Regions from separate parts of the Homo sapiens genome. Here all the other regions are linked to region 1. The links come from fine-mapping of genetic effects on gene expression. A gene starts in region 1. Each other region holds a variant in brackets. All regions are shown on one strand. Distances are between the middles of the regions.

What was found. PIP is the estimated chance that this variant, and not a neighbour inherited with it, causes the effect. A credible set is the group of variants that fine-mapping cannot tell apart.
Region 2: its variant is the best candidate, but not a certain one, in a credible set for the expression of INSYN2A in testis (GTEx, PIP 0.63).
Region 3: its variant is the best candidate, but not a certain one, in a credible set for the expression of INSYN2A in blood mononuclear cells (TOPMed, PIP 0.68).

What each region holds. Positions count from the first base shown.
Region 1 is chr10:127,192,926-127,200,691 of GRCh38, forward strand. INSYN2A (inhibitory synaptic factor 2A) reads right to left here and starts at 3,666. Exons shown (of 6, transcript NM_001039762.3): 1 at 3,072-3,666. The region is part of intron 27 of DOCK1 (dedicator of cytokinesis 1); the gene reads left to right.
Region 2 is chr10:127,352,597-127,360,362 of GRCh38, forward strand. DOCK1 (dedicator of cytokinesis 1) reads left to right here. Exons shown (of 52, transcript NM_001290223.2): 32 at 2,073-2,131. Among named protein-coding and RNA genes, the nearest start is that of INSYN2A, 160 kb to the left of the region's middle. The variant A/G (reference allele first, on the strand shown) is at 4,119.
Region 3 is chr10:127,173,065-127,180,830 of GRCh38, forward strand. All of the region lies in intron 27 of DOCK1 (dedicator of cytokinesis 1), which reads left to right. INSYN2A (inhibitory synaptic factor 2A) reads right to left here. Exons shown (of 6, transcript NM_001039762.3): 3 at 3,813-4,075; 4 at 2,148-3,336. The coding sequence starts at 3,331. Among named protein-coding and RNA genes, the nearest start is that of INSYN2A, 20 kb to the right of the region's middle. The variant G/A (reference allele first, on the strand shown) is at 2,892.

The sequences.
Region 1 (7,766 bases):
AGTCATGAAGTTTCACTACATATATATCATAGGTTAGCTCCAGTATTGGAATAAAGACTTCTCTCAATGTTTGTATGAGAATTTCATGGTAATGAAAGTGTCGTCATGTAGTATCAATCATATTAAATTTTGCTTTAAAATATTGAAGTCACCCCATAATGTTATGAAATATTAAAATCAAATATGTGAGACAAAAAAGGATCTGCTTCATAAATCATGCCAGCTAATTTCTGGTTGGGGAATGTAGGTCTCCAACCAGTGGAATCATGGTGGGGAGGGGTTGTGGTGCTTCACATTTATGAAAGACTGTTGAAAATGACGATGACACTGGTTTTATCTGGGGAGTTTTTATGACCTCACACTCCCAGAATGACGGTGGTTTGCCTCAAGTATGTAGAATTTGCCTGCCTTCCCAACTGAGCTTCTTGGATGCTATGGACGCGTTGAACAGCATCCTTCACAAGCGTTAAAATCCGTGGTGAACCTGTCACTGCCCTCCTACGTAAATATCTGACCACAGAGCTGCTGCTTTGGGAGGTAGCTGTGATCATTTCTGTATCATGAGTCTCTGAGAAGCATAAGTCACCTGCTTCTCATATTCCAGAGTTCAGTAGTTGTCTCTAAATGAGATAGCCATGGCTGGGCGCAAACAAGAGAATACAAATGTCTACGTGAACGGGTCTGTCCTGCCACTCCACTGCGATCCGTTGTTATTTCTGAGAATCATTTTGATTTTTGGACTGCTTATTTCAGTGTGTAGGAGTCTTCCTTGTAGATGAATGCCTTTCACGTACAAGTCTTTCTCTTATTTATTGATTTATTTAAAAATTTTTCCCTACAGAGGGAGAAACAAAACACAAAAATTCCCTTTCCTGCCACAGGGGAAAACAACTGTGGCAAAACAGAGAAGCCCCCGAAGTAAACAGAGTAATAGAGTACCCAGCCTCCCATAGAGCTTGCAGAAATCTCATTGTGCAGACATGGAGCTTCCCAGCTTTTGCCTTGTTAGCCTATTTCTTAACCAGTAATTCTGTTTCTTAATAGGATAAAGGGCCTGACTTACATGAAAGCTCAAAGTCTTAATCACAATGATAAAATACAAAGTCGTGGCAACTGTAATAAGTTTAAAGACATATGTAGCTTTTCAAGGACATCTTGTCTTTAAGGAAAAGTCTTTCATTTAGCTAAAGAAATTAAACTGAATTGTTTAGTCTTTTAAACAAAATGATGAATTTAGTGAAGAAAACAAAACTCTCCATGGCTAATGTAATTTATGCAAAATCATGCAATTAGTGATAGCTGTGCTAGACTTTTTCTTTTCCTTAACCAAATGCGCCTCTAATAAAACCATCGTGAGGAGCAGTGCCATCTAATGTAAGTAGTAAACATGGATAGTAAATGATTAATATCTGGTGAGGCATGCAGATGGCAGGACTTCCATTTTTTCTTTGAGCTCCTTGTGCATGTTTGCTAATCATTCTTGCAAAAAAATTGCAAAGATAAATATGAACTTTCAAAAGTAACATTCAACAGGATATGAATGTAAGAAATAGTACAGTGTGGGGGAATAGTAAAAACCAGCACTTTCCGCCTCTGCATAGTGAAATGACGGTAACTTGCTGTAGCGTAAGCTTAATAAGGGTTATATCATTTTCATGTATGTACTACTCTGGGAATGGCCCGGGTCTTGTGAGTGGTATTTTTTCATCAAGTACCCAGCCAGCGCAGTCACTCTGACAGTCCCCCCACTGAGATAAGGCATGGAAAGGTAACCCTCTAGCAAGTCCTCGTTGAGGGGGGAGCGTTCAAGTGCACAGACGTCTACCCTGTGCTATCCTGAGCTGTAGTCTTCTGAAATGATCGTTTGGCTTCCCAGCCAAGGCAGGGCTCCCCCAAAGTTCATTCCCACTCTTGCAGTTTCACCTCGGGATGCTTCCGCAGAATTTCAGCGCCTAAGCAGACAAGGTCAAAGTAAACCGCTTCACCGCTGCTTCTGGCGCAGGGGCCCAGAGCGCGTGCAGCTCCCCAGCACAGACCAACAGCAGGAGAGGGGTCCGGGCGGGAGCCCTGGGCTGTAGATAAGCAAAACGCACCCATTTTCTCTCCTATTTACTCCAGAGGCACCTCTCCTCCCCCACTCCTGGCATCTCTTTATCACTGGCTCCCTCTCCCTGTGGCATATTTTTGGGTAGTAGAATGCTGAGGTCACAGGGAGCGGCTCTTTATCCAAGCAGTGGGGACATCAGCCTGGAGCCCTGAGCATGAACCAGCAAGATGCAGACTCTCGCTCTTGACTTTGGGCTCCAGGAGCTGCCCCGACCCCGGGCTGCCCGCGGGCTCCCTCCTCCCTCCTGCCCTCGCCCGCCAGCTCGCAGTCTCTTAGGTCTGCAGCGTTGGTTGGTTTCCCACGCCTGTCCCGGTCTGACTCGGGCTGCCAGGCACCGGGAAGCCCCGCGGCGCCGACCCCAACCCGCAGCCCCGGGAAGGTGCCAACCCCAGCGAGTGGAGGAGACGAGCATTTCACGTGGGCATCTGCCTTCACTGCTGCTCGCGCCTCTCCTCAACGGCCGGCGTCAGGGCCCCTCTGTTCCAACTCATCCCCCCCCCGAAGTTAATCAGCCGTACTTGTACTTTCCAGGGCGCTTTAGTTTGGAAAATACTTAAAAGCCTCGAAACCTTCCGGGGAGACGGCCGCCCCCAGATCTCCCAGTTTTGCCTGGCTAGGGCTGTCGGGCGCTCACGAAGCTGTGGCGTCTGTCTGGAACCCACATCGCAGAGGCGCAGCCCCGCTCCTCCCTGACGTCGCCAAAGTTGCCAGACGCCCCTCAGCGACCCGGTCGCGCCAGATGCAGTTGCATAACCTTGCCCCCCACCTGCGACCGCACCGGGTCCGCTCCCGGCTGCACCGGGGTGTCCCGGCCCCGGGAGCCGCCGAGTTTCCGGCCAAGCCGGTTTGGGGCCGAGTGTGTGCGCCCGAATCGGGGTCGGCGCCCGTCCCAGCGGTGCTCTGCCCGCGGCCAAGTACGACGGGCGCGGGGGCGCGGGAGGAGGGCACGCGGGGCTCCGCTTACCTTCCGCTGCTTACAGATAAGTCGAGGTCGATGCAGCGCCTGGCTCGGGCATGTCTCGCTGCGGACCCTGGCAAGCCTGGGGCGGCACGGAGCACTCCGGACAGGGCATCCGCGGCCAGACTCGCCGCGCTCACGCGGAGGAAGCCTCGGCTCCGGGGACTTGGCCCGCTGCGCGCCTGCTGCCCGCCCCCTCCACCGCTGCCGGCCCGGCCCTGCTGGCCCGGCCGGCCCCCGCGCCGCAGCTCGCGTCGCTCGCGTCCCTCCGGCCCCGCTTAGCGACGCGCGCGGGGAGGCAGCGGCTGGGCCAGCTCCGGGGACGCCCGCGCGCTCGCTTGCTCGCGACGCGGCGGAGCCAGCCACAGCCACCCGGCTTCGCGCTCCTCCGATGTCCTCATTTACTGCAATTGTCTTCGGCGAGATCTCAGAGCCAGGGCCAGGAGGCGGGGGCGGGGCAGAGGAGGGAGCAGGAGGGAAGTCCTTTCCGCTGCTCCAGGTCCCAGCTACTCCGCGGAGCCGGGCGGCCAGAGGCGAGGGCGCCCCAAGCCGCGCGCCTGCCGCCTGTGCGCCCGGCTGGCACCGAGGCGGGCGGAGCCCCGGGCCCCGCGGGGCGGAGGTGGGGCGGGGGCGGCGCGGGGCCGGGCCGGGCCGGGCCGCGTGCGTGGGGTGGGGGATAGGGAGGGAGTGGAGGAGCCCCCTCCCGCCGCCGCCAGAGCTGGAGGAGGAGGAGGAAGAGGAGGAGGAGGTGGAAGGAGCTGCCGCCGGCTGCCGCCGGCTGCCGCCTGCGCGCGGGGCTCCGCCACAGCGCGTCCTCCGGGTTTCTGGGCTGCAGGCGGCGCTGCATGGCCCGGGAACTTGTTGAGTCTACCCTGGAGCCGCCTCCGGAGCAGCTGGCGGGCGGGGGACTCCGTGTGTTCTCTCAGGGATGGGGGGTCGCTGGGGACCCTGCTGCATGACTGTCTGCTGTGCCAGCCAGCCTGGCCCGGCGGGGCTTTGGGAAGCCAGGCTTGAAGGGTGCGTGTCTTGTAGGTGCCTGGCCGCTCACCTGCGGATGCTGCCTTGTAGAAGCAGGAGTTCGGGGATCCTTTCAGTGCTGGCTCCAACCTGGTGTCAGCCTCTCTACATGGGGACAGGAGGTCCTATGAGTGGCCTGAGGACTGAAGTGGGAGGGCCTGCCTGGTAATGTTGCATGCTGACATTTAGGGACACTCCAGAGCAGGCGCCACTGCCACTCCTAGCCAGGAACCCTACCCCCCATCCAGAGCACACACCACCCGTCAGCAGAAGCCACAGGGCGCAGAGGCTGAGTTCCTTTGTGGCAGAGTAGAATTCTCTTGGGAGAGGAAAAGACCTAGGATGCACACGGAGCTATCCCCGCCCTTAATTTCCCACCCACCAAAGAGTATTGGGTGTTTTGAGCTCAGAGCAGCAGACCCAGGGGCCCCTCTGATGCCTGTCAGGCCCTGGGGTCTGGGCCAGGGACTAAGCAGCCAGCCGAGTGCAGGGCTCCTGGCCCCCTGGATTTGCTCCTAGAATGTAATGTAAAATGTAAGTAGCCACATTTATTAGTCTGTTTCTCAGGAAAGGTCAGAGAAGTAGTGGACCCCAGGGAAGGGACAGGCTTCGGAGAGGAAATTGGGAGGACAAATGGAAAGTCCCTTCACCCACCCACCTCTCCAGACACATCAGTGGGCAGTGAGACCTCTTTGCCTATACATCCCTGAGTCTCTGCACCTAGCACCAGCTCTGTGCCTGTGACCAAGCCATAGCTCCATCCTTGTTCGCTGAGCTGAACTGAGCCTATCACTGCCTTATAGAGTGTCTGTTTTTTATAAATGACTTTATACGAAATACCTTCTTTGTATGTGGATGCTTTGGGCAGTGTGTCCAGACATTTCAGAAGAAAAAAAAATCTAAAATGTCATCTATTTCCCTCTTTACCCCGCAGCATCCTTTGGTATACAATTTTGCCAGCCTTGGGGATCCAGATATGCCCAGGACGGGAGTCCTGAGCCTGTGGATCCAAACTCTGCCCACCTCACTCTTCTTGTTGTTCTTCTTAACTCAGATCCCCCAAGCTGATTTTCCAGCTTACCAGGGAGGCTGTTGGGAGCTGGCTGGAAAGAGATGCTTAATTTTGTGTGAGCAGTATGGAAACTGCAGTCCCCTCTTCTGCCTGGAAGGGGCCTGGGAAGGGAATGTATAGGAGTTGGGGACGTTTAAAACCAGATAGGAGAAGTTGCCACTCTCCAGCATGTTCCCTTGGGGATGTGCTGTTGCAGCTGTGGGCTCCAGTAATTTTCCCAGTGGTCTGGGGAACTTCTGTAAATCTTACTTTATTGGCAATCCATAAAATTGAAATCTGCCTTCCGTCTTTTAAAGTGACTGTAAATAAAGCTGCCAGGAAACTTGGGCATTGGGCTGGTAGTATCAGAAGGCTGAAGTTTTCCGGGACCAAGAGTGAAAACAGGTCAACATAAATGCATGCCCAGCAAGGCAGTGCTCAGCCACAGGTGGCACTGTGAACTGGCAAGAAAACAGCTCCAAGGACAGTGCTATCTGAGATTCGCATGATGTATAACTCCAGGAAGAAAATGGAAAGCCGTAATTGGCAGGTTAGAAAATCCACTTACATGAAGAGGAGAGTATAACGGAATTCTGTAGCATCATCAGGACTGCTTAGAGTTGTTCAATTGTGTAGTAGACTTACAGTTGTTTTGCTAAGTCTATTAAAATCATTGGCATCGCTTCTTTTTTTTTTTTTTGAAGTAGGAAACCATTTACATATTGTAGTGCTTAAGTGCATGTCTTCAGCATCACAAATCAAAATATTGGTGAAAACTTGCCTCACCTTACCTTTGGCTCTGGAGAGATATTCCACATGGGTGAGGTGTGTGTCATCATGCTCCAGGCTTTAAAGCAAGCATCATGCTGGGGGCTGGCTGGAGAGAAGGGAGTTTCAGCCATCTTCCTGCCCACAGATCCCTCTTGCATTTTTTTTTAATAGATGGGATGTAGGCATATTTTTAGGGTCTAGAATGAGTCAATATGCTCGGCTTCCTCAGGAAAAAAAAAAAGTGAAACTTGATAGATTCATTTTAGGAATCAATTGGTATTGGCTTTTTATATTTTGCTTAAGATTTTTGTTGAAAAAGATAGACTTGCAAAGGAGAAAATAGCTACTTTTCAAGTGGGATTTCCTAAAAGCAGAGGAATAAAAATAAGGGAAAGTTCAAGACGGCTAACTAAGCAAAATATCCACGTCTCTCTTCTTTTGCCTTCTTCTTGGAATTGTGCAGGGGTTGTACAGAGAATTGCTGGAATTCCACCCCTATGGTATAGTGAGTTTGAGGTCTCAATTTCCACATTAAAAAGTCAAGAATATACAAGTCAAACATGTTCAAGAATGTTCATAACAGGTTTATCTATATCTGTTCCAAACGGGAAATAATCCAAATACCAGTCAACAGTAGATAAAGATTTCTTGGTTCTTCGTATAGTGGAATACTAGACAGCAACCCAAAAGCACTAACTGCTGATGCATGCTTTGGCATGGAGGGCTTCTACAAAGGTGCAGAACAAAGGAAGCCAGACGCCCAGTGTTTATGACATGATTCCCTTTAGATGAAGTCCAAGAATGCGACAAAGTTATCAATGGTGGAAAATATCAGAATGGGGATTACCTTTGAGGCATACTCGTTGCCCGGGACCACAGCAACTTCACTGGTGCTGGATCATTCTGTCTCCTGCACTAGTTGCTTATGCAGTTTTCCACCTATATAGAAATTCATGGAGATGCTTCCTGTCTCAGTGTGACCTCATTTGTCTGAGCATCATCACTGTGTCATTGCAATGTCCACATGCATGCTCCCCAATAACCCTTACCCCTCAGTGAACCAGTGTATCTGTCAGTGTGATTAACCTGTATCCTCTCCAGTGTGCAAGGCAGGAGAAGAGAAAAGTGTCTCCAAACTAGCAACTGCAGAAGAGGAGCCTTCCAGTTTAGCTACACAGCAGAACTTCCTTCTTTAGGAGACTGCCGATGAAACGCCTGCCCTCCCAACTGTCCGATGTCGCTGTGACAGAGCTCGCTATGGACGTGAATTTTTCTTTCCCATGTCTTTGTTACACAAAAGCGGTCCCGATCCAGATCCCAAGAGAGGGTTCCCGGATCTCACACAAGAAAGAACACAGGGCGAGTCCACTGTGCAAAGTGAAAACAAGTTTATTAAGAGAATAAAGTAGTGAAAGAACAGCTACTCCATAGACAGAGTGGGACATTCCCAAAAGTAAGAGGAGGAATGCGTCCAGCCTAGGTACAATACTCATATATATGGGGAGCTCTGCTCTGCTACGAGGGTTTGTGATAAAGGATTAAATTTCTTAATTATTATATTTTGCAAGAATCGATATTATCTGTTTTCGTTTTTGTTTTTGTTTTTGTTTTGGAGACAGAGTTTCGTTTTGTTGCCCAGGCTAGAGTGGCGTGATGTCAGTTTACTGCAACCTCCATCTCCCATGTTCAAGCAATTCTCGTGCCTCAGCCTCCTGAGTAACCTGTAACCACGCCTGGCTGATTTTTTGTATTTTAGTAGAAATGAGGTTTCACCATGTTGCCCAGGCTGGTCTCCAACTCCTCAGCTCAGGCAATCCACCCATCTCAGCCTCCCAAAGTGCTAAGATTACAGGCGTGAGCCA
Region 2 (7,766 bases), 160 kb after region 1:
AGTTTTTTTTTCTTGATACAGAGTCTTTCTCTGTCGCCCAGGCTGGAGTGCAGTGGCGAGATCTCAGCTCGCTACAACCTCCGCCGCCCAGGTTCAAGCAATTCTTCTGCCTCAGACTCCCAAGTAGCTGGGATTACAGACATGTGCCACCACGCCCAGCTAATTTTTGTATTTTTAGTGGAGACGGGGTTTCACCATGTTGGCCAGGCTGGTCTTGACTTCCTGACCTCAGGTGATCCACCTGCCTCGGCCTCCCAAAGTGCTGGGATTACAGACGTGAGCCACCGCACCTGGCCTGGGCCTTCCTATTTTGAGGGAATCATCCCAGAATGAGAAGAACTCTGTGTAGCTGGGATGTGAGAAGCATGTGCAGAGCTTGAGTGGGTCAGTACATGCTAGGCCGATCCCACTGTGAGCATTTCACCTCTGCTGGGGGACATGGGCGCAGGGGGTGTTTGTGTTCAGGGGGGCCACCTCTTTCTGATGCCACTTTCCTGGGCTTGTCCAACCCCTGCTTGGCTGGAAGGGGACTCACCCACCTGCACATCGAGAACCTCACCAACCTCAGAGGAAAGATTAGAACAGGGCTTCACCACAGTTTTGCTTTCTGTGTGTCCCACCCCTGGGAAATGCTGCAAGGACGTCAGCCTGCCAGGTCACCCTGCAGCCAACTGCATCCTTTCCCAGCCCTGGCCGCAGCAGCTGCTGGGATCCCTTTGTCATTAGTGCAGGAGCAAAATGGGAATGGGGGAGCCAGCACTACAAGCCTCCAAGCAGTGTTCAGGTCGTGTGTTTCCTGGGCAATTGGGGGGCGTGAGTTATGCAGGGCGCTTTCCTCTCTCCCACCCACCCAAGTCCAGTAGCTTTGCTGCCTGCGTGCTTTCCCCAACCATGGACGGGCCTCTCCTACCATGGCCTCAATGCTGGGCCGTCTCCCCAGCTGAGATGCCCCCTCCTTAACCGAGTCTGCCTGCATCAGTGCTCACCTGGTTTAGGGCTGCGCTTAGAGCTAGCGTGTCCTGGTAGGGAGTGGCCTAGGCTCCAGTTCCTTTTCTTCACCAGCACTGTGGGCCAAGGCGCATGGCCTCCCACGCACCACAGCAGAGCTGCCAGGTGAGATTGATCTTCTGTGGTTGAGATGATCACTCTTGGCTGTAGCCCACTCATGCCGTGAGTGACAGACAGGTGCTTAGGGCACCAGAGTCTTCTCTAATAAGGTGGCAGCTGGCCGCGGTTGTTGATTTACCGGCCAGGATCTTCGCCTCAAGAACCACAGTGCGCTCTTCTGTAATCAGTGCTTTCCTTCTCACATCTCCTGACACGAGGATGAGCAGAGCAGGCTCGATGACACAGCTGCTCAACTGTAATCCTGTATGATAATTTTGCAAATTATTATTTTTAATATCAGCTTTTTCCTTAGGCAATAAAAGAAAAAGTTAAATTGCTCACAAACTAATAAAGGTTTATCTTCTGGAGCATCAAATTCTGTTTACTCATGAAACACACACCTCCTCTATGCACCCATCGAGAGGAAAATTAGCATTTATTTTCCCTGATAAACAAAAACAGTGGAAGATTTGTTGGCATCTTTTGGTGTTAAGCCCTTCCTTACATTTAAAATGACATAGAGGAATGCAAGAACTTTGGAAGAGGTCTGCCCTGACTCTGGATTTAATTTTAACTTTGGAAAGCAACCTGTTGTGTGCAGTAGGATGTTATGTGGTGTCTGCAGTGCCTAGACGCTAACGACATGCATGGAACCAAGCTCCCCCTTGGGCCCAGGAGCCAAGAGATTGAAGAAAGGGAAATGCTTTCATGACTCTCCACAAGTTCCTCCACGTTCCCACCGGGGGGAAGATGTTGTGTAACCCTCAGTGATGAGAAAGTGAGATTTCCCCCAGCTAGATTCCTCCTCCTTTGATTCATTTTGGTGGCAAGAGAAGTTGAAGCTTTGACACTCTCTTTATTTGCCTCAGTGCTAGAAGGCTTTAATTGCACTTAAAAATAATTCCAGTCCGATTTTCAAATGCCTTCCGGAGTGATTCAGCGTTTTTCTTTTCCCTGATTTCCAGGTACGGAGATATGAGGAGACAGATTGGCTTTGAAATCAGAGACATGTGGTACAACCTTGGTGAGTAGCCTGGATGTGGGGGCATAGTGAATATCTTGCATCCCTGGTGGGTCATGGCACTGGCCGTGTTCATCAGTGTTGGGATGTCTTAAGATCTTAATGGCTTCTGTTCCTTGGACAGCAGTTGCTACTCTTTGTAGTAACTGTTTTCAGGAATTAAGAGATAGAAGACCAAAGGCAAGGAAAGAAAATCTCACGGGTGGGGCAAAAAGAAAAATCCACAGAGCACCCTCTTGTGTTGTGTGGACACGTGGCTTGGAGCTCCTCCCTCCCTGGTGTTGCCTCCCTCCCTCAGTTGCCTCAGTTCCTTCTGCGTCAAATAGGAAGCTCATCCTGCTGTGACATTTGCCATCACTTACCATATTCAGTTTTACAGACTCTGCCTTCTAAAGGGTTAATTCCCCTCCTCAAAACCAGATCTACCTGGTGGCAGCCTAACATGCTCCTGCACTCAAAGCAGTGAAGGGTCTGTGTGTGTATATGAAATTAATAGGAGTTTATTTGTAAATTAAGTAATTTTTTCCAACTACTTTTATCATGAACAGTAAGAATAAATTCTCTATTAAAATTTTAACCAATGTGACATGTAATTCTTATAGATAAGCCCCTTCAAGAAATCAATGACTGACAATAACTTGGTATCTTCCCAGCATCTTTACACTACCCTCTAGGAATCTGGCCTCACTCCTCGTTGAGATGAAGCTCTCTCTGGCTCCTGCCGTCAGCCCTCGGGCTTGCTTTGTGCCGAGGTGTCCTAGGCCATGGGGTGCTGGTGGCCTTGCCTCAGTCCTGAGCAAAGCATCAGTTGCTTTTCTGCCCCAGGATCTCCAGGCCTCTGCTTCCTTCCTTCAAATGGACACGAGAAGCCTGCATTGGCCTGTTGCAAGAAACCCTCCACTCTCCCCTCTACCTCAGAGAATCTTTTCCTACTAGAAGGAGGCAGGGGTCTGTCCGCATCACTCTGTTAGCCTCGTAGCATTAGGGTTTCACTTGTTGCACCAGGGTTGGGACAACTTAGCTGCACCCCAGCCTGCTTACTTCCCAAGCAGCTGTGACTCCCTGCAGTGGCTGGAGAGCATGGCAAGAAAGAAGCAGAACCCAGCGAGCCACGCTTCACTTCTAGCTCACTGTTTGCTTTTGCATCTTCCTTGCCATTCTTTGGTTTGACATGAGGCCCAGTTAGGTTCTCAGGAATGGAAAGCCACAGCAGATGCTCCTGGGTGGGGATGAAGAGCGGGTCAGAGTGGCCCTGTCTGCCTGTGCCCTCCCAGTACAAAGAGAACCTGCACCATTGCATCCTTTCTGCGTGTCAGTCCTGGAGTCAGTGGAGGACTCCTCGAGGAAGCTCTGTGCTAGGTCTCTGCACATGATTTTGCTGCAGTAGCTCCTATGTCCAGAATCTGAGTACTGGGTCTCAGCTGTCAAAGGGCCTGCTGATCTCTGCAACATGATACCTACCAGGCACCATCCTGTCCTTGGCCTTCCTGCCATCCCAGGGAGGAAGGTAGGGGCTCTAGGCTCAGAGTCAAGAGAGATGATAAGTCCCACCTTGAAGTTTTCATCCTCTCCCACTCCTGCCTCCCCGTGAGGCCTGATTCACATGGCTCAGTCTTTCTGGGCCGTTAGATAAAGTGGTTGGACTGAATTTTTCAAGAGCCTTCCAATTCCAAAACTCAATAATTCTATGACATATATATACGATGATCTCAGTAATAACGTGCTAAGGCTTTTAGAACAGGGAGGAGGACCATCCGTGATTCATTCCAATTGATCTCTCTGTGTTCTTTGTTAAAATCCTGCTCTGACAGATGCATCTGTCATTTGCTCTGTTAGGCCAGACGGCAGGCCCCACACCAGGCAGGGACCCAGTGTGGTCCCATGAGAGAGAGAGAGAGGCAGGAGACGGGGGAGGGCTTTCACAGCAATGGCATGGAGGGGGGCTGTTCTCTGTTGGAACTCAGTGAGTCCAGGACTTTTATAGGCACCA[A/G]CGTTCATGAAGGAGGTGATATGAGCTCCACCTGCCACAGTTGGGCTCTCAGGGCAGACCCCAGACCTCTTCTCTGGACACAGGCTCTCTCTGAGGCCATCTTTTACCCTGGCCCCTCCTAAAAGAGTGAGTCCATTTTCTTCTGTGTTGTTCCATTTCAACTCTAAAGTATAGACAGGGAATTGCCTATTTCCCCCAAGAGGACACTTGCACATATACTTTCAAATGAAGGTTCTCATTCTGGAATGGCTCGGTAACATTTCACATCATTTATGATAATTAGAGACACCACCCTAGCGGAGGGTCTGATGGGTCATTACATACTGAAATGCTTCCTTCTCCCCGTACACAACTGCAGCCACCATTTGACTCACCCTGGCCCCTGAGCACCCCCAGGATCCTCCACTGCTCTCCATGTGCCAAGGTCATTGCCTAGCACCAAGGGAGCCTCTAAAACTCAGCTCGAGCCACAGCTGGCCAGAGGTCACCCTGACTGATGGGTGCTCCTGCCTTTCTAGTTTTCTGATTTGGGATTGTTTTTGTTTTTGTTTGCAAGTATAGTTAATGTCACCTCTGTAGTCCCTGAGATTGATCACCACTGAAAGTGGCTCCATTTCAATTTGTGCTACGTGCCATGATAACAATGAAGGAAGGAAAGGCGGGCCCAGAAAGGGTGAGTTTCTCCGCGTGCCCTCTCCAAGTGCTTGGGCAGGCCTGGCCTTCTGAGGATACACTTGGGTCTGACACAGAGCACTTGGTTCTCTTGACGTTATCTGTCATGCTCCAGATAGGCCAAGTCAAGCGACAGGAGACTTTTGATTTGGAAAAGGTTGCAGTGAAGTGAGCAAGCTCCCCCCTTCCCTCCTATCAGTGGCTGATTTGAATATGGTGATTAATGCATGAGGTGTGTGTTTTGCAGCTTTTTAGCCAGGAACACTGACTGTGGCCTGAGAAGCGGCCAAGAGGTCAAAAGTAAACCAAAGCCAATTAGGGTCAGGGACTTGGAAACAACAAGAAGTAACAGTCAGCCACCAGACTTGGGTTCCTTGCTGGTAAAATAAGTTATCTTTCAAAGTGAGGGAGGTGATCTTAAAAGCACCTGCAGCCCACAGGATCCTCCCCAAGCAGCCCCTCAGGATGGCTAAGGATAGCACCACGGGGTGGCCTCCTTCCTGCCATGGTGCCAGGTGCCTGAGTGTCTTTGCCAAGGCTGTCACACTCCAAATTTATGACAGCACATCTCAGTTTCCCAGGATGTATACAACCTACTTTCTACATAGTTTTTTTTTTTTTATTTTAATTTTACTTTTTGTAAATGGGTGCAGGTTTGGGAACATATTGGCAGGATGATAGCACCGACTCTGCCAAGAAAATAGAAATGGAAATCAGATCTATTTATCTGCTTACAATTAATAAACTGTCACTTGAGCAGACCTTCAGCTGAATGCTCCATGAGTCTCCTCCTTCAGTCTTTCCAATAGTATGCATGGCCCATAGAGAGGAGCATCTCAGCTCTTGCCTCCTCCTTGCCCAGCCTCAGAGCAAGGATCTGGGGTCTGTTTTGCTCAATTTAATGCAAGGGCAAACATGGCACTGCCCCATGGGACAGAGTGATGTGTTTCTTTCCCTCCCAAACCTGTCATATTTTGAGTCTGAAAGGGGAAATCAAAAGCAGGCTCTCTCTCAAAAGAAAAAAGGGGGGAAAATGTGCTTATTTACCCAGCTCCTGAGTTATTTATCAAAGCGCACTCTGTGCAGCAGCCTGCCGGAGCACCTGATCTCCTTGCCTGTGCCGCCTCAATTTACATTTTGTTTATTACATCCAGCACACTGGAGCGAGCACTAGACCCCAGCCAGCCAGAACGAATGTGCTTGGAGCAAGATCTTTATCCACCGCGTTGGGTTTGGGATATTTTTCATGCAGGGATTCCCTTCATGGGTGTTTTTTGGCGACTGGGCAAATTGTGTGCTTTTCATTAAAACCCGTATACATTGTGGCCTAATGGGTGTGGCCAGGTGGTGGAAGCTTTTGCTCTGCCTGCTCTTGTGTATACAGAGATTTTTCTGGGATAAGTCTATGTTTAATGTCCCAGATTTTTGAACACCAGTGATTGCAAAGAGATAATTTAAACACCCACAGGGAGGCTTCTGACTAGGGAGGCCTTGGCTTCGTGAGAAAACAAGATGTTGTTCCCAGGGGAAAGAGCTCCACGTTCTGTAACTAAAATAGACTCTAGATGGGCTATGAGACCGGCAAGGACTGGAAGTAAAATATTCTCCTCGTCACCTTCCTTTGGCTCAAAAGTGTGTCCTCTTTTTCTTTAAGTCTACACTGCAGGAGTCACCTTGGTCCTCATTGGTTCCAAACCTGAGTTCATCATTAAATTTGAGCAAGATATGCTCCAGGGGAAATCTATAATGCAAATGTCAAAAAAAAAAAAGGTGGCTACCAGAGAACATTCCCCACCCACTCCTGCTCACCTTGGGGACCACTGGTTTACGAAGAGTCAGTGCCCAGGGCTGTCACTATCCATAGAACCCAGTACCAGCTCCAGGCCAGTGTGTCTTCTGTACTAATAAGGAGGGTGATAATAAAAGGTTAAGCTACTGTCGTTTTGGTAGCTTCTTTTTCCAATCCCTGCTTCTACAACCACTTGTGACTGCTTTCTATGTTTTTCCCAGCTTGGAACAATAAAACCTGTTGGTGACAGACAGAACTTTATGACGCTGAAATTGTGGTTGATGAACAACTCGCTGTCACCATCATCTGTTTTCTGAAACATTGGCTCTGACATTTTTTAGGCATAATACAAGGAAAGTGTCACCTGAGAGATGGAATATAATAGCATTTTCAAGAGAATGCTTTGCAGCAGTTACAGGACTTTCAGAAACATTAAGCATTTGGGAAAGTGGTGAGAATCACACAATGATAGCCTTAGTCAAAATATTAATTATTTAGTAAAAGTTGAAAATAAGATGTTAATTACATTTTGTGTGTATGTCCACCCAATAAAAAGTAATTCAGTCTAATTATGAGGATTACGTATTCTCTTAAGTATCGTTATAGTAGCCACATTTCTTTAATGATTCTCTTTACAGAAATGTATATTCACTGAGTTGCAAAGAAAACTAAAGAATTTGGTTTCCTGATTGTGTAGAAATATTAATAAGATTGGTTAATTCGGGATACATTGCTGGTGTTAAAATACTGCACATATTTTATTCAAACATTTAATTTCTCAGGCATTCTTCTGTTATATGTTGGAAATGAAATGGTTTTAGTTGCAGTGGGGTGAAATGAAAACAAAATCAAGATTTCTGAAAGACAAGAGGGTCAGCTTTTAAAAGATCACCTTTTTGATAGGACCTGCCTCTGAGTTTCATTATGTCACCTTAACTAAGGTTCGCAGCCCCATTTTTAGAAAGGAGTCTTCCAGGAGCTTCATTCCAGAGGTGCAGTGTCCAGGCAGTGAAAGAAGCTTGGCAGTTGCTGTGGTTTCCTCCCTCTCCCATCTCTCTGAACTTGCCTGGTTCACTTCAAGCTCTTTAGGAGCTCACCCTGATCCTCAGGAGTACCGCAGCCACGCACCCACAGGATATGGGGTCCCCGGCTGGGGTGAGCACAATGGCGGCCAACCCACAACTAGC
Region 3 (7,766 bases), 20 kb before region 1:
AGGGGATGCATTCATCACATTGGACGCCCACAAGACCACTAAGTCCTCCCCAGACCCCTGCTCCAGCATTGCTGGCCAGCAAGATCAACACTCATGCCACTAGTGGACATCTACCCATTCAGACACACCTGCCACTAGGCTGAACACATTAGAAGGTCACCCCATGTCATTCCATCCCCTGTCTGCAGGACAGACAGTGATCTCAACTTACAGGTGAAGAAAGAAGGCACAGAGACATACAGCCCTTGCCCAAGCCCTCAGTGCCAGATTCCTACCCAGACATGTCTTAGTAAACTGAGAACCACACTGCTAGATGGATGGCATCTCAGAGAACCCTGAGGATCTTATTTAAAGCAATCTTCCATACTTGTTCTAAGAGGAGTGTAAGAAGGCGCTCCCATATATCGTACGGTTTTCCTTTCTTGTGTTCGTGGGTGTTCAGCCCTCTCAGGTTCTTCTTTGGGCACACACTCCTGTGAGTATGCACATTAGTGTACATATTTCATTTTACACCATTTGGTGAACTTTATTTCACCAAAGATGTTGGCATCTTTCTCTTTTGCTGTCTGGTTTAATTCACTACCAACTATATCAACATCAGTGACTGGGTCAATGTTTGACCTTTTAATTTTTTTGCAGGAATGTGGACTACTGATCAGTAAATCACTGGTCTCCCCCACCCCACGCCTGATGAGTGTTGCTTTTGGATCTGTACTGATGGAAATGGGATGAAAATGGAGATGTAAACCCAAGATTGAACAAGGCCTTTTGGAAATGTTATATGGTGTTAGATTACCTATGAATCTACTGTTAAGATTTTTGTACATTTGGCTGGCAGTTCTTTTTGCTTAAGAGCATCAAGCTGTAGACAGGCCTCCTGCACCAAGCTGGAGCAGCCAGAGCCCAGGGCAGGACCTGCCCCAGCCTCTCCACTGCTGGAGCTGGGCCTTTCACCTCAGCCTCCACCTTAAGGCAGGAGGTGTTTCCTCCCCATTCTTTGCAGTCAGCAAACTGTCTAACTCAGCCACAGCAATCCTCTTAAGGAAACTTTGTGCCCAGGTGGTTTTCTGTCCTGGAAATACATTACTTGGCTTATTTCAGGCTGGCTTCTAGCTTGCTAAACCCAGGGCTCAGGGCTCGCAGAGTGAAGGGTGCACATCACATGAGGCAACAGGGCGCTGCCTCCGATGTTACCTCCAGTACACAGGCTAGCAGGAACACAGACACTTTCAAGGGGCAATGGGCAAGAGAGGTCTCGGCAATCCAGGCGAAGTCCGATAACCCCCAGACCCAGAGTAGAACAGGCTGCTTTGTATCAGCTGAGCACATGCCGGCCTGTAGGAGGCTTCCGCACTGGGGAGCTCAAGAACTAAAACCCCACCTTTAGGTCATTTGTTTTTAAAGATGCTGCTGCACAGTTTAAACTTCAAAACATGAAGTGCAAGATGGTCTTATCAACGCAATAAAGTATTGGCCGTGAAGTTAGTATCATTCTTTCTGCAGCCCCACTGGACACATAGGGCAGCCCGTGGGGAAGGGCATCTGTCTCCTAATCATATACAGTCAGGACTGGTCTCACAATGCCCATTGCTTCTTTGGGTTCCAGGTACAGAATGGAAAACACACTGTCTATGATGTAAAGCCTTGTACAGTCCTGAATACCAATATTATTTCAATTATTTATTATAAGCAAGTCAGCATTTACTTTTCCAAATGTCACATGAAATTTCCTTTCTCTTCCTAATACGATTCCTAAGAGGCCTGTGGCCTCTTCTCTTCCTGATTCTCTTCTTATTTAGAATAGATATTTTGGACTGGCATATGTTGTTATACATTATCAATATCATAAACCTTTAGCCCTAGCAGAATAAAAGGAAAGGTCTATCAATTCATTCTAAGCATAGGTATGGTTTGAATTCAAGGCCAGAAAGATGAACATTAACCAGAAAGCGTATCGTGCAGGATGCAGTGACGTCTAGTATCATAAAATAATCTGCGACCCCTTGGAGCTCGCCACGCCCTTAGACTATGACCTGTTTACGGAAATGCTGGCTTTAGTCTCATTACAGACTTGGGTTTGGGGCTACAGATGGACTCTGTGGTGATCAGCCTGCATAGCTTCCTAAGACATGGGTGAACATACATACCCTTCCCGATGGGCCTCTCCTTTTTCCAACTCCTGAATGACCCCCAAGAGCACTTTGATGGTTTCTTGGCTTGAACTGATCAAGTTCTCCATCATCTGAAGTTGTGCTTTGAGGTCGACCACTTCCGTATGAGGCACGATTCGTTGGCATTCTTCACCTGCAGCAACCGCTGTGGGACTAGGCTGGTTCCCCAGCCCCGGCGGGGTGTGAGTCTGCGACGGCTGCTCACTACATTCGGGGGACAGGCACTGCATCGGGGGTGAGCAGGCCAGGGCAGTTTCCGAGGGCGCCTGGAGCCCGTTGAGATGTGTGGCTCTCCTCCGCTCGTCATCTGCCGGGCAGAGTGACCACTGGCTGGCGGCTGCAGAGTCTGACAAACCAGGCTCGGGGGCCCTGGCACTGAGGGCAGGTGCGTAAACGGTGGCAACCTCCGTTTTAAACACCCTCCTGAGGGCAGGTGGAGCGGGCTCCTCGGAGTTTGGCCTCCCCCGGTCCTGCTTGGCCCTCCCGAGCAGCTGGTAATCGGGCTCTTCGGATGGAGGCCGAGTGGAGTTTTGGAGCGCAGCTTCTCCATAGCTGAGCGGCTCCGGGCTTTTACAGGGCTCTGTGCAGTTGACCCCCAAAGGCTGGTCCACTGTGTTCATGTGTTGGTTGGAATGGAAAACCAAGGCTGTGGTCTTGTGCACCCGCCCCGCGCCACATGGCCGGGCCTCCTCCATGGGTCCAGCCTCGTTCTTCTCTTTC[G/A]CATCTGTTAGAAACCCATTGTTTTGGCTTTTAAAGGGATCTGCAGCTGGGAGGCTTTTGAGGTTCCCCTTTTTGCGGTCCAGAGGGAACGTCTGGTAACACTTCTTAAGGTCGGGCGAGGTCTGCACGCCTGTGCTCTTGGTGACGTTGGGGATGGACCTGCGTGCGGGCACTGTCATGTATTTGCGGTAGGCTGCTCTGCAGGACACGGGCTTGGCCTCCCGCTTCTCCCCCAGCTGGCCCGAGGACAGCTGTGTGTCCCTCTGCTCATTCTGTGCCTCGCAGATATCCTTAAACCGCACCTGCAGGGCTTTGTTCCGTTTTTTAATCTGCCGGTTGGGGTCCAGGGCGTATTTCATCTCCAGGGCCAGGCAGGCGGCGGGTTCCACTTCACTCTCCGACGTTGTGAGTATGCATTTGCCGGTGTCCTTACTGACCATGGTTCCTGCATTCAGAAACAGCAACAGAGGTGTCAGTGGGACAGAAATACACACTCAAGCACCGGCCGCACAAACTTTTAGCCACCACGACGACTGCCTGTTTCCTAATTATATTTAAGCAGGTGAGGTCGGCCTTTATGTTAAGGAAAATCACACGGGCTGAGAGTCGCTGGCAGCACAGCTTGAAATGCTTCTCAGATATTAAAGCCTGCTTGCTTTTCCAGGTGGGATACACTCGCTTTCCTTTTGACAGTAATGCATGTTTCCCCATTAGACAAACCTGTTTTACTACATTCATCAAGAAACCCAATGATGCTGCCTCTTCTGCTTTGCAAATTATCTTTTCACACGCGTGACTCCCCTTCTTAGGCAGATGGTTTACCAAGTGCTACTTATTTGGTTTGCGTTTTGACTATTTTTTGAGGATGACGTCATTAATCTATTGCTGGAATCTGGGAGAGCTGCTGTTTTAAAGACTTACTGGAGCTGCCACGTCTCGAGCAGATAAATGTGGAGAGCCCTCCGAGGAGGAACGGAAAGAAATCTATTTGCGTGAGCCGTTATGGATTCCGGGGGAGAGTTGGCCGTGCTCCTGGGTGGGAACCGTGAAGGAGAAGTCGTCGAGGGGTGGTCGCTTCTCATGGGTTAACATCAGCTCTAAAAGGAACGTGGGTTTCCCTGCATCTACAAAGGCCATGTTTGCAACTCCTTTTATTCCATGGAGAGTGGTACTGGAAAATAATTCTTAAAAAAAAAAATAAAAGAAATTACTCATTCTAGAATCAAGTTTTGTGTTGTGATCACAACCTCCGAAAATGAAAACAATGGTGGTGGTTTCAGTACTTAAATTCTGAAAGCAAATAAAACTATGAGGCTTTATGTTAATCATGCAAATTCATCCTGGGCTGAATTATTAAATGCAGCTAAAAAGATGCAGGTGGCCAATGACTCCTCTCGGGGAATACCAGTGGGGTAAAATGCCTTCACTTTATTAGGCGGATTCACAGCTGTTTATTGCACATGGAAGAACTTATTTGATGGCTGCGCTTAAAGCAAGAAAATAGAGTTAAGTGTGTTGTTTGTGAGTGAGGCTTCGCCTTTTCCCCCCTTGTGTTTGAGAAGAAAACAGTCAAACGGAAGGCACTGAGGGTGTACGGGGCCCGAGTGGCTGGAGCTGAGTGCCCAGAGAGGCAAGGTCATGGACATGGGCCCGTGAGAGCTGCACAGAAACAGACTTCGTCCACATTGCCCCCAGCCCAGCTGCCGACCTTGTGCCCTGTCCTGGGGGTGTCTGAAAAACCAGCCCAGAGACCTGTGGCAGCACTCATTGGAAAATGCCACAAGAACTATGACATGCGCAGCATGGCCACTGCTTCTGGAGTGAGGTGGTTCGAGTGCCAGATGCTCTGCTCGTTCACATACAGAATGCCTTGCTTACAAATGTTCCTGAAGGTCAAGGCTACACTTCCCATTTCAAGGAGGATACTAGGGTTCAGAGATGTTGCGTCATTTTTCGGTGTCACACAGGAAATAAGCAGCGCAGGCAGGAGCAGGACCCTACTTTAGTGGACCGCTGAATCCATGCTGTTCTCATAGACCCAGCTGTCCAACAGACAGAGGCATGACCCCTCCCCACATCCTTAGCCCTTACTGAGTTAGCATGACAGGCCGAGGTGCACGGTGGTTCCATAAGGGGGAAGAAGAGACAACTTCACAGCCACCATCTAAAAGTAAGTGACATGACTAGCCCTCTATTAAAATGACCTCTATGTCTCAGGCCAGCCTGGTCTTGTCACCTTGCTGGCCTCCACTGCTGTTCACTGGATGAAAGAGTGAAGGAATCAAATTCTTCATACATTATGCTATGAACAACTAACAGGTAATCATGTGTAAGAACAACAAAAAACAATCTCTGCAGCATTTGATTTAGGTGGGACCAGAGTTTCTAAATCCTGGCACTACTGGTATTTCAGGATGGATCATTTGCTGTTGGAGGGGCTTTGCTGTGCGGTGCAGGGTGGTCAGCAGTCCCTGGCTTCTCCCCACTGAAGAAGTAGCACCGCTCCCTCCCAGTGTGACAACTAGAAATGTCTCCAGCCATTACCAGATGAGCCTGGGAGCAGAGTCTTGCCTGGCAGAGAACCACTGCATTAGCCCTTGCACCTCTGGATGCCTCGGGCTCTTGTTCGATTATCCTATAGTGTGTCCTGAAAGGTGAGGCTTGCGTAGACAGCAAAGGAAGTCCTTGGTGCTTTACTAGGTGCTGGGGGTATTTGGAGATTGCTGCAATTTGAAACTTGAAAAACTGGGCAGTTTTAGAGAGGAGAGAAAAGGCAAGAAACAGACTGGAGATGCACCAATATCTTGGCCCCGTTTGGGATGGCTAGATGATAGGTGGAAGGAGGGACAAGGCGTGCCTGCTCAGGAGAAAGCATCGATGGCTTTTAGAGATTCTTATCCCAGCAGGTTAAACAGATGCACACAAGACAGCTTGGTGTGGGGGACAGTATGGGTAGCAGTGGGGGTGGAATAAGAAAATTAAATCTTAACCTTCACTCTGATCTCCTATTCATTCTTTAACTGCCTTTGTTGTCCAGGTATGTCAGAATGTATTGTGCCATCATTCTGCAGAAGACCTTCATACTAGGGAAAATTTGAAAGAGAGAGCATTTTTACAAAAAGCAATTTACTAGTAATTTATCAGCCTTTTCCCTGCTACTTCTGAAAAATGTGTGTCTGAATAAGTTTGTCCTGCCATGCTATTCATCATCACCATTTGCTAGGGACTGCACTGAAATAATTTTCTTACATCAGTTGGCTGGGGTAAGAAATATTCTAGGTCTTGGACGCAACCATCAAACTAATACAACAAATCAGAAGAATTAATTGCTGGTGGCCAAATAATAATAAAAAATTCTAAGCTCTTCTCTGTTTTATAGAGGGTTGCTGGTACATAAAAATCATTTCGTTGTTAGTAAAAAAATGATGGTAATACTTAGGATTTTTAATCACTTTAGTTTGTTATTGCTGACTTAAAAAACAGTAATAGTAATTGAGTTCTTATTCTCTGATAGGGAAAACACCAAGGAATTTTTGTGGCTGGTTTATTTTGGCTTCAAATGAGGTTATGAGTTCTTTCTGACGGCTGGATGACATTTTCTAAAGCTTTAAAATTGAATTTCTGGACATTAAGAATTACTAAGGTGGACACATCTTTTCGGGGTGTTCATTTGCTCTTTATTGGGGGTGGAGGGTAAGGCTTACAGTGATTACCATTAAGAAAATGATTTTGTTATGAAAGGAAATGGGGCATTCTACAGAGGACTTTCCCTAAGACAAGTGGAACCTTCTCCCACACTATTTCATTCATCATTCCTTCATGCATTTATTCAGCAAGTGAATGTACATACGTTACAGTGTAGCATTAACATTCAGTAAGCATGCAGTTAAGTGCTCCTATGTGCTAATCAAATGTCACCATTCCCCTATGCATAGCAGTTGTGTTTTCTAGATTTGATCCTCATCATATCCTTACAAGGCAGCCACTATTGATACCCTCATACTGCAGATTGAGAAACCGAGGCACACGATTTTGGGATTTTTTGCAACTTGCTCAGAGTGAGGAGGCTAGTGGGCCACACCCATTGAAACAGCTGAATCCGTTTGAATCACATGCCCTAACCCACTACCCCTGCTCAAGGAACTCTGTAACTTGAAGTGATCCATGATAAACTTGAAAACATCAAACAACTGAAACTCATCTGAGCAATGCCCTTGTCTTGTTCCCACAGTGTATCTGGGTGCTGGTTAGGCAAGGACATCCAGGTAGTTCCGGTAACACAGTGGGTGTTGGAGCACTGAGTGAATGTTGCCTTGAATTCTGGACTGAGCATGAAGCTGCAATAGGATTCTTCATGATGGCTTGCCTTGGCTGGGTCACCCTAGAGAACCATGGACTCTGGTTTGGGGAGCTGATCTCTTGGCTCTAAAGCAGCAGGAGTTCATAAAGTTTATTTTTCGTAAGAAAATTGTGTTTTAGAATTCATTGGACTGTGCTGTCTTGAGGTGAAAATGGCTAGTCATGGTTGTGCCTGTTTGGCTCGAGAGAGCTAGATGTCGAGGAGCTGTTTGGAATATAAATGTCTTAATTACCCTCAAATTAAATTTCATAATCAAAGTGAGCTGTAAATACATAAACCCTGCATTTTTAGATTAGTGACGGAGAACCATCTCTGCATGCTGCTTTAAATTAATGGCTGATATGAAAATGTGCATTCCAACTTAAATAAGTGAAAAATGGAAGCAACTTAATGGCTAACAATAGGTAAACAGTTAAGTAAATTATGGTTTACATTCACTCTGGGCGGCCATTAAAAGGATAATTATAGAGATTATTTAGTATCATAGAAAAACACGAAATAATGTTAAGTGAAAC